2 linked regions of the Homo sapiens genome follow. The protein of the gene in region 1 purifies or fractionates together with the protein of each later gene. This does not show direct contact. Each region holds a gene or a part of one and is shown on either strand. Other genes may lie near its edges.

The links.
Region 2: the proteins of UBXN8 (region 1) and SLC38A1 purify together in Homo sapiens (affinity purification with mass spectrometry, with the first as the bait; one large-scale study listed by BioGRID). This does not show direct contact.

Annotation. Positions count from the first base shown.
Region 1 is NC_000008.11:30,747,129-30,750,936, reverse strand, and holds part of UBXN8 (UBX domain-containing protein 8), read right to left. Parts: intron 1-3,808. UniProt on the Homo sapiens protein: Involved in endoplasmic reticulum-associated degradation (ERAD) for misfolded lumenal proteins, possibly by tethering VCP to the endoplasmic reticulum membrane. May play a role in reproduction.
Region 2 is NC_000012.12:46,266,150-46,270,743, forward strand, and holds the start of SLC38A1 (sodium-coupled neutral amino acid symporter 1), read right to left. Parts: upstream 2,895-4,594; 5' UTR 2,377-2,894; exon of another isoform or gene 2,306-2,376; intron 1,839-2,305; exon of another isoform or gene 1,076-1,838; intron 368-1,075; exon of another isoform or gene 297-367; intron 1-296. UniProt on the Homo sapiens protein: Symporter that cotransports short-chain neutral amino acids and sodium ions from the extraccellular to the intracellular side of the cell membrane. The transport is elctrogenic, pH dependent and driven by the Na(+) electrochemical gradient.

The sequences.
Region 1 (3,808 bases):
GTTGCTATACTTTATTGTTTATGGACTAACGACGGGGAAAAAAGCCTGTAGATGTTCGGGACAGACAGACAAACATCCATTTATCCATTTTTTTCCTGAATATTTTCTTTTTTTTTTTCCTTCTTTTTTTAAGAGACAGGGTGTTGCTCTTCTTTTTTTTTTTTGAGACAGAGTCTCGCTCTGTTGCCCAGGCTGGAGTGCAGTGGCATGATCTCGGCTCACTGCAAGCTCTGCCTCCCAGGTTCATGCCATTCTCCTGCTTCAGCCTCCCGAGTAGCTGGGACTACAGGTGCCTGCCACCACGCCTGGCTAATTTTTTGTATTTTTTAGTAGAGACGGGGTTTCACCATGTTAGCCAGGATGGTCCCGATCTCCTGACCTCATGATCCGCCCGCCTCAGCCTGCCAAAGTTCTGGGATTACAAGCGTGAGCCACCGTGCCCGGCCGACAGGGTGTTGCTCTTCTTGGTCTTGCTCTGCCACCCAGGCTGCTGGAGTGCAATGGTGAGACCACGGCTCACTGCAGCCTCAACCTCCTGGGGCTCAAGGAGGGCCTCCTGCCTTAGTGCCCCCAAGTAGCTGGGACTACAGGCACGTACCACCACACCCGGCTAATTTCTGTATTTTTTGTAGAGATGGGGTCTCGCCATGTTGTCCAGGCTGGTCTTGAGCTCCTGAACACGGGCAATCTGCTCGCCTCGGCCTCCCAAGGTCCTGGGATTGTAGGTGTGAGCCACCACACCCAGCCCTTTCTGAATAGTCTCAATCCACAGGTGCTTAAATGCTCAATGTGGAACTCAGGGATACAGAGGGTTTACTGTACTCTCCTTTGGGCATTAAAAAACTCATGATGGTTGTCATTTCCAGAACAAATGTACAGAGCATAATTCTAGAATAAACACTATCTTGGGAATACAGTTACAATTAGAGCGATCAGCTACACTATATTATGAATATCAGTAATGTATAAGTTGTAGTTTCCCATATAGAGAAAATTACATAACTAGAAATAAAACTGAAAATATCATCGTGTTGGTCAGGTGTGGTGGCTCACACCTGTAATCCCAGCACTTTGGGAGGCCGAGGCAGGCAGATCAGAGGTCAGGAGATCCAGACCATCCTGGCTATCACGGTGAAACCCTGTCTCTAATAAAAATACAAAAAATTAGCTGGGCGCGGTGGCGGGTACCTGTAGTCCCAGCTACTTGGGAGGCTGAGGCAGGAAAATGTCATGAACCTGTGAGGCAGAGCTTGCAGTGAGCCAAGATCGTGCCATGGCACTCCAGCCTGGGCGACAGAGAGAGACTCTGTCTCAAAAAAAAAAAAAAAGAAAAAAAGAAAATATCGTGTCAAATTCTAGTTCTATGATAATCTCACTGAAACACCAAATTCTTATTTCTCACAAATTGTGCAACTGTGTGCTTCTTTATTTCTTGACATTTAGTCACTTGTAAGTAAAATTACGATTTACATGCTTGCGGAGGAAAAAGTAAAAATATAGTATTTGGTCTATTTATTTATTTATTTATTTTATTTTTTTTTTTTGAGACGGAGCCTCAGTCTGTTGCTCAGGCTGGAGTGCAGTGGCGCAATCTTGGCTCACTGCAACCTCTGCCTCCTGGGTTCCAGCTATTCTCCTGCCTCAGCCTCCTGGGTAGCTGGGACTACAGGCATGCACCACCATGCCTGGCTAGTTTTGTATTTTCAGTAGAGATGGGGTTTCACCACGTTGGACAGGCTGGTCTCAAACTCCTGACCTCAGGTGATCCGCTGGCCTCAGCCTCCCAAAGTGCTGGGATTACAGGCATGAGCCACCGCACCCAGCCAGTATTTGGTGTTATATTAAGAACCAAAGTGAAAATTATTTGAGCAGAAATCTAACTACCTACTTTGCATAATACAATTTGGCAAATGTTGAGGGACAGGAAACAAAGCTGGGTTAAAAATGATTTCCATCCTCTTGGAATTTTTACTCGTTTTGTGTTTTTAATTTTCAAAAGATAAATGGCAGAGATACAGAGGAATCCAACGTGATCAAGGCTGGTAATTAGTCAATTAACTAAAACTTAAAGAAGGAATCAGAAAAACATATATATAGGCCGGGCGAGATGGCTCATGCCTGTAATCCCAGCACTTTGGGAGGCCAAGGCGGGTGGATCACCTGAGGTCAGGACTTTAAGACCAACCTGGCCAACACGGTGAAACCTCCATCTCTACCAAAATACAAAAATTAGCCAGGCATGATGGTGGGTGCCTGTAATACCAGACACTTGGGAGGCTGAGGCAGGAGAATCACTTGAACCTGGGAGGTAGAGGATGCAGTGAGCAGAGATCATGCCATTGCACTCTAGCCTGGGCAACAGAGTGAAACTCTGTCTCAAAAAAAAAGAAAAAAACATATATAGACTTAAATGTTTTATTTTAAACTGAAAACAGATAGATGTATATTCTTGCCTTTTTTTTTTTTTTCTTTCAGATGGCCTCTCACTCTCTTGCCCAGGCTGGAGTGCAGCAGTTGATAACAGCTCACTGCAGCCACAACCTCCAGGGCTCAAGCAGTCGTCCCATGTCAGCCTCCCAAGTAGCTGGGACCACAGATGTGGGCCATCAGATAATATATATATATTTTTTCCAAATGATCCTCCTTTCTTGGGCATGGTGGTTCATGCCTGTAGTCCCAGCTACTCAGGAGGCTGAGGCAGGAGAATCACTTGAACCCAGAAGGCGGAAGTTGCAGTGAGCTGAGACTGCACCACTGCGCTCCAGCCTGGGTGACAGAGTGAGACTCCATCTCAAAAAAAAAAAGAAAAAAAATTTAGCTTAAGTACAAGTAAAATGTATTGACAATAAAGGTTTTTACACAGTAGAAAAAGACAAGGCTAGTTTTTCAATATATGTCTGAATATTAGTACAGGCATAACCAGCCCTGCTGCTGGTATAAAGTATGATGTGTAAATCAGACTTAAATGCTGTTAAGAAATAATTATTGGAAGCTCACTATCAAGAATCCAAAGGTAGCAAAAAAAAAAAAAAAAAAAAAAAAGAAAAAATATATATTAAAAAAAGAAAACTTGGCCTCCCAAAGTGCTGGGATTACAGGCATGAGCCACCTTGCTTGGCCCAATATTCTTTAAAAACCCTAGCAATTTAAAGTTGCTTAGAGAAGAAGTATGACTTTAAAAAAAAAATCACGGCTCCTCCAACTTGCCAGTATTAACTGTTGATTCAGGTGTTATTCAATACAACACATAATTTAATCTATTTTATCTCTGGCCAATACAAAAGTAGTTTAATATCTAGAGTATTGGTATGTAAAGAAACCATTGAGGCCAGGCGCAGTGGCTCACGTCTATAATCCCAGCACTTTGAGAAGCTGAGGTGAGTGGATCACTTGAACTCAGGAGTTTGTAACCAGCCTGGGCAACATGGTGAAACCCCGTCTCTACTAAAAATACAAACATTAGCCAGGCACAGTGGTGCACACCAGTAATCCCAGCTAGTTGGGAGGCTGAGGCAGGATAATGGCTTGGACCTGGGAGGCGGAGGTTGCAGTGAGCAGAGATTGTGCCACTGCACTCCTGCGTGGGCAACAGAGTAAGACTCTGTCTCAAAAAAAAAAAAAAAAAAAAACACCACTGAGGTGTGGGATTTATGTTCCATACTACTGCTGTTCGTTCTAACAAGCAATTTGCAAACATCACATGAGAATATGAAAGAACTATATTTGTGTGTATACCTTTAAAGAAAAAAAATTTTAAGGTTTTTTCGTTTTTGTTTTTGTTTTGAGATGGAATCTCACTCTGTTGCCA
Region 2 (4,594 bases), on another chromosome or scaffold:
CTCAAGGTCTCGATCCAACAAGTATTTATTAAGCAGGTACTATGTGCTGGACATTAGAGGAACAATGAGTAAAATCGGTTTTTGTCCACAAGCATCACCCAGAGTAAAGAAAAGAGTAGCAATAGTCAGATATCAGAAACATGGTGCTCCTTTCATTAAATGGCCTTAATTCATGAAGCATCATAAAAAATATACATAAACAACATACATATAGGTTTAAAGCTCCAAAACACCTTTAAAATCTATTCATCTATCTGTTCAATTATATTACAGTCAAAGAAGAGTGCAATAAGTACTTGCTGTTCCTTCTTCCTGTTCCTTCCGCTGGCCTTCTTCCCTCAATTATGGAAATAGCTGATCCCTTTTCATCATTCGGGTCTGAGGACAAATGTTATACCCTCACACCGCCCCTCCCGGTGAGTCACTCTATTTCAAGCATCCTCCCCCATCACATGATCCTGTTTTATTTCTTCATTGCACTAAGAATACCTGAAATGTATATGCCTACATTTATATAGTCTATTTCCCCCTGAGAACGGAAGCTTCATAGAAGGTGAAACAAATCTTGTTAGTTGCTGCCAGTCGCACAGTAAGCCCTCTGTAGAAAATGTTTATTGGCCACATTTTTTTAAAAAGCGAATAAACCTCAAGATTAAGACCTCAAACCAAACTATTCCAGTTTCCAATTGCTTACAGCGACATACTGAGAAATCGAGTGACTCTCAAGAGAAAGGCCATTTTGAGGCTGGGGTCGAACCAAAATCCAGGGGGTCCACACCAGGTCAGTACCCCGGAATTGGCTGTTTTGCAAGATTTCGGGAGTACCAAATTGGCATGAGACATTTGACAACGAGGCCAGCCATGCACCGAGCTCAGGTTTTATTTCCGTTGTCCTTCTGACGTCAGAAAAAGCACGAGTTGCTGCACAGTTTCTTTTATCAAGGTGACAAATTACACCCTCGCTGGGCCCTGCATTCTGCAAACCATAAATTTATTTTCCTCCTCCCCCTTATATTGAAAAATGTAAAAACCCACTGCAGAGAGGTCAAAACCCCTTCCAAACGCAAATAAATACCGTTTTCTAGCAGAGGCGTCTTTTTTCACTTTTGCTACACACATCACCGCGGATTCGTCCGAGAAAGTACGTGATCCTGGCGGCAGTTAGGTTTCTAACAGAGAACGAGGGTTTGTACAAACCCCGGGTCCGCGCCGCAGAGCAAGACAAAGGACTCTGAATTGTAGCACCACCTTCCCCAGCCCAAGGCAGCCTGTGAAAGGCACTGGGAGCGGCGTGACGCGGGTACCGCGAAATTCCTTTTGCTGCCATATGCACTTGTGCCTTCTCTAACTACAGTTCAGCACAAACCTCAGGCGGGCGATTTGGCAGGCAAACGGTGCCCAGGCAGCCGGGTAACCTACTGGGTCCCAGTGGGTGCTGGGGAGCCCCATGCGCCAGGAGGTGGATAATTTAGGGGGCAAGGGGCTCGCACAAGGGCGAAGATGCGCTCTCCTCCCGGCACCGACCCACGCGTTTAAAGGCCTCTGCGGCAACGTTTAGGGACGCGAACTAGGTGCCGGGGGTTGGGGAGGAGGTGGGACTGGAAGCGAGAGCAGTCTGCGCCCAAGACCGCGCAAGAGGTGGCCTTTTGTTCGCTGGCTCCAGCACATCCCGGCTCTCGAAAAAACACTACCTCTGTCCCCTGCCACCCTCTGCATTTTAGAAAATCCTCTTCAGGGCAGGAAAGGACAGTGAGTCACTGCAAGCATCCTTTAGTAATTTCTCCCCGCGCCCTCCTACTTCCCCGCGTTACAGAGGGGCAGAGCACCAGGAAGGACGGCAAACATGCCCCGGTTTAGTGGTGGTCCGCGGCCGCTACCCAGCCGGCCGCACGCAGCACCCCCCGGACATCACACGATCTCCTCTGGGCCTTGCGGACACAGGAAATTTTCACCAAAGGCCGGGGATTCAAACACTCCCAGAACACGGTCGCGCCCTCGGGTCAGCTGCGCTCTCCCTCCAGACGTGCGTGGTTCCTGGCTCTCGTAAAAATGGAACCAGATCTGGTACCACACTCTGCCACAGCCACAGGAAAACACACCAAAGTCACAGGAAAACAAACCAAAAAGTAAGCCACAGCCCACGCAAAGGTGAACTCGGGGGCCCTGGCGCTTCCTCCCGCTGCCGCGTGCGTTCGGGAAGCACAGGAGACCTGGACTTTTCCTCTCCTAAAAGCAACATCCGAAAGCATCGGGCACAGCCGAGCTCTCTCTGCTTTCACGCCCGCAGAGATGATTTCTACGTTACCTCCTCCTCCGACATCTAAATCTCCCCTTGCCGCTCGCCCAGCCCTCCCCGGGAACGGATAATCACCTTACCTCCGGAAATAAAGGGAAAGGTGGCAAAAGGCGATGTGGAGGTGTCCGCCCTTCCGGGGTTTTTACCCTCGGCAGTTTGATGTCCTTTGTGTCAAGGTCTGGCTGCGGAGGCCGGGAAAATGTGGCCCCCGTCAGTAAGGGTTGGGCAGGGAGCTTGGCGTGGCCTGGCGGATTTCGGAGGAAGGTGAAGGGCGGAGGCTCCTGGCGACCTTCTGGCGGAGTGGCGTGGCCGCCCCAGTCCGCGCTCGCCTGGCTCTCCTCCTTTCCGGGCCGATTGCATCAGAATCTCCCCTCACCACCAACCCCCACTCACACTCTGCTCGCCGGCCTCGCACTTACATCGACATGCACCGGCGCTGAGGGTCACGAATCGGAGTCATTCTCCTACTGGGGGACGCGTGGCCCTTCCGCAACCATGGCTTGTGATGGTTTAACGCGGACAGGCCATTCCTCCCCGTCCCGCGCGCGGTCTCCTCCCCTCCTGTGCGCCCGCTCTTTAACCAAAGCTGCGTGTCAGTGAGCCGTGCCGGTCACATGGTGTCACTGCTGGCGGCCGCACCTTGCTGCCTCCCTCTTGCAGCTCTCTGACGATGCAGCGACCGCGGCTGGCGGAGATTGAGCAACGGGGAAAGGGTGAGGGAGGGGTTGCGGGGCGCGCGTGTGCCCGGCGCACTGAAGCTGGCACCGGGAGCAGAGGCTGCGCGCCGCCCTGGCACCTGCCCCTCTCCCTCCCGGGGCCCGGCGGCGTGTTCGGAACCCAGCTGCGGCTGCAGCTGGAGAATGAGAGCCCTTAGGGATGGGGGTGGGGCGGCTAAAGGGGCACCGGCGGAGGACAGGAGGGCTGTGCGTTCCGCTGGGGCCTGCATTTTGGGTACGCCAGAGCCCCGCCGGGGCCGAAGGAGCGAGGGAGTTGCATTGTGGGAAGGGCGCAGCATGAGGATGGCCGCGGGAGTGGCAGGTCCGAGCGCAGCCCGGAGAGCCGCGGGCAGCGCCTGGGACTACGGGCAGCGTTGGAGCGGAGGGCTGGCCCTGGGCACAGCCTGCAGATGGCCCGGGTTGGCGGGAAGGGGACCGAAGTGGCAGGGGCGGCGGGGAGCTCGGGCACCTTTAAAAACCCTTTGTCCCTAACCTGAAGCGGGAGGCACCTCCCCTCTTCCGGATCCAGCACCCGCAGACCTGGTCAGCCCTTCCTGAGATCTGCCCTGTGGAGCTCTGCTTTGGGGACTGGGTGTGAGGTGAACCAGAAGGATTTGCTGAGCACCGAGAAAGCACCGGCCTAGGCGCAAAGAGCCGGGGGCCAGCTCTTGGAGGGCCTGGAGACCCCACGTGGTCCCGACCGAAGGACCTGGTGCGTCCAGGTTAACGGAGCTGGGGCGCTCCAAGTCCGGGGGACGAGGGAGCGGCATGGAGGGGAGCAGGGGCAACTGGGCCTGGTTCCCTTTTTTCCCGCTTACTCTTTGTTTCAGACACAGCCCCCTTTCACTGGCTGGGCACTTGCTTGCAGAGGAGTTGTGTCTTAAAATGGCGACAGGAAATCCCACCTGCGCCTCAGCCAATTAGACTGTCATAGCGCGAATTTGCAGGGTGGAAACGCGAGCTTTTTATTGATAGGGAAGGTTCAGTCTCCTGTTCATGGTTCATCAAAACAGGAAAGGGAAGGTGAATCATAATTCAAAAATTAACTACCTGGAGCGTTTCAAGTAGACAGTAGTCATTGTATTTGGGTGAATTTTGCTTTTTCATCACCACTGGAAAAGCAAGATGATAACCAAATTTGAAACTCATCACGGACTAAACTTCTTATTCCCTTCGAATGGCAGTAAATGGCCTTTATTAGTTCAACAGTGGCTTCCTGAGAATCCTATTTAGAAGGCATGCTCTTGAGAAATACTGAAAAACAGAAAGTTCAGAGCAAACCAAAAGGGCAAACACATGGGCAGCCTAGCTCAGACAGACCTGCATTCAATTTCTTCCTCTGACACTTACTGCTTCCCTCATCTGCTTTACTTTTGTCCTAATCCTGTTTTCTAAATTTGTGAAAAAGGGGAGAAGAGTACACACAACATAGCAATATTCTATAGGTCATCAAAAAGTTGGTTCTTTCTACCTTACTAGAGGAAGCTAATTTATTGTGAAATTAATGATTTTAAGTAGTGTGCACCTTGCCTGGCACAAATAATTCTTATCAATAAGGTAAGAAATCTGAATAGGTAAAGTA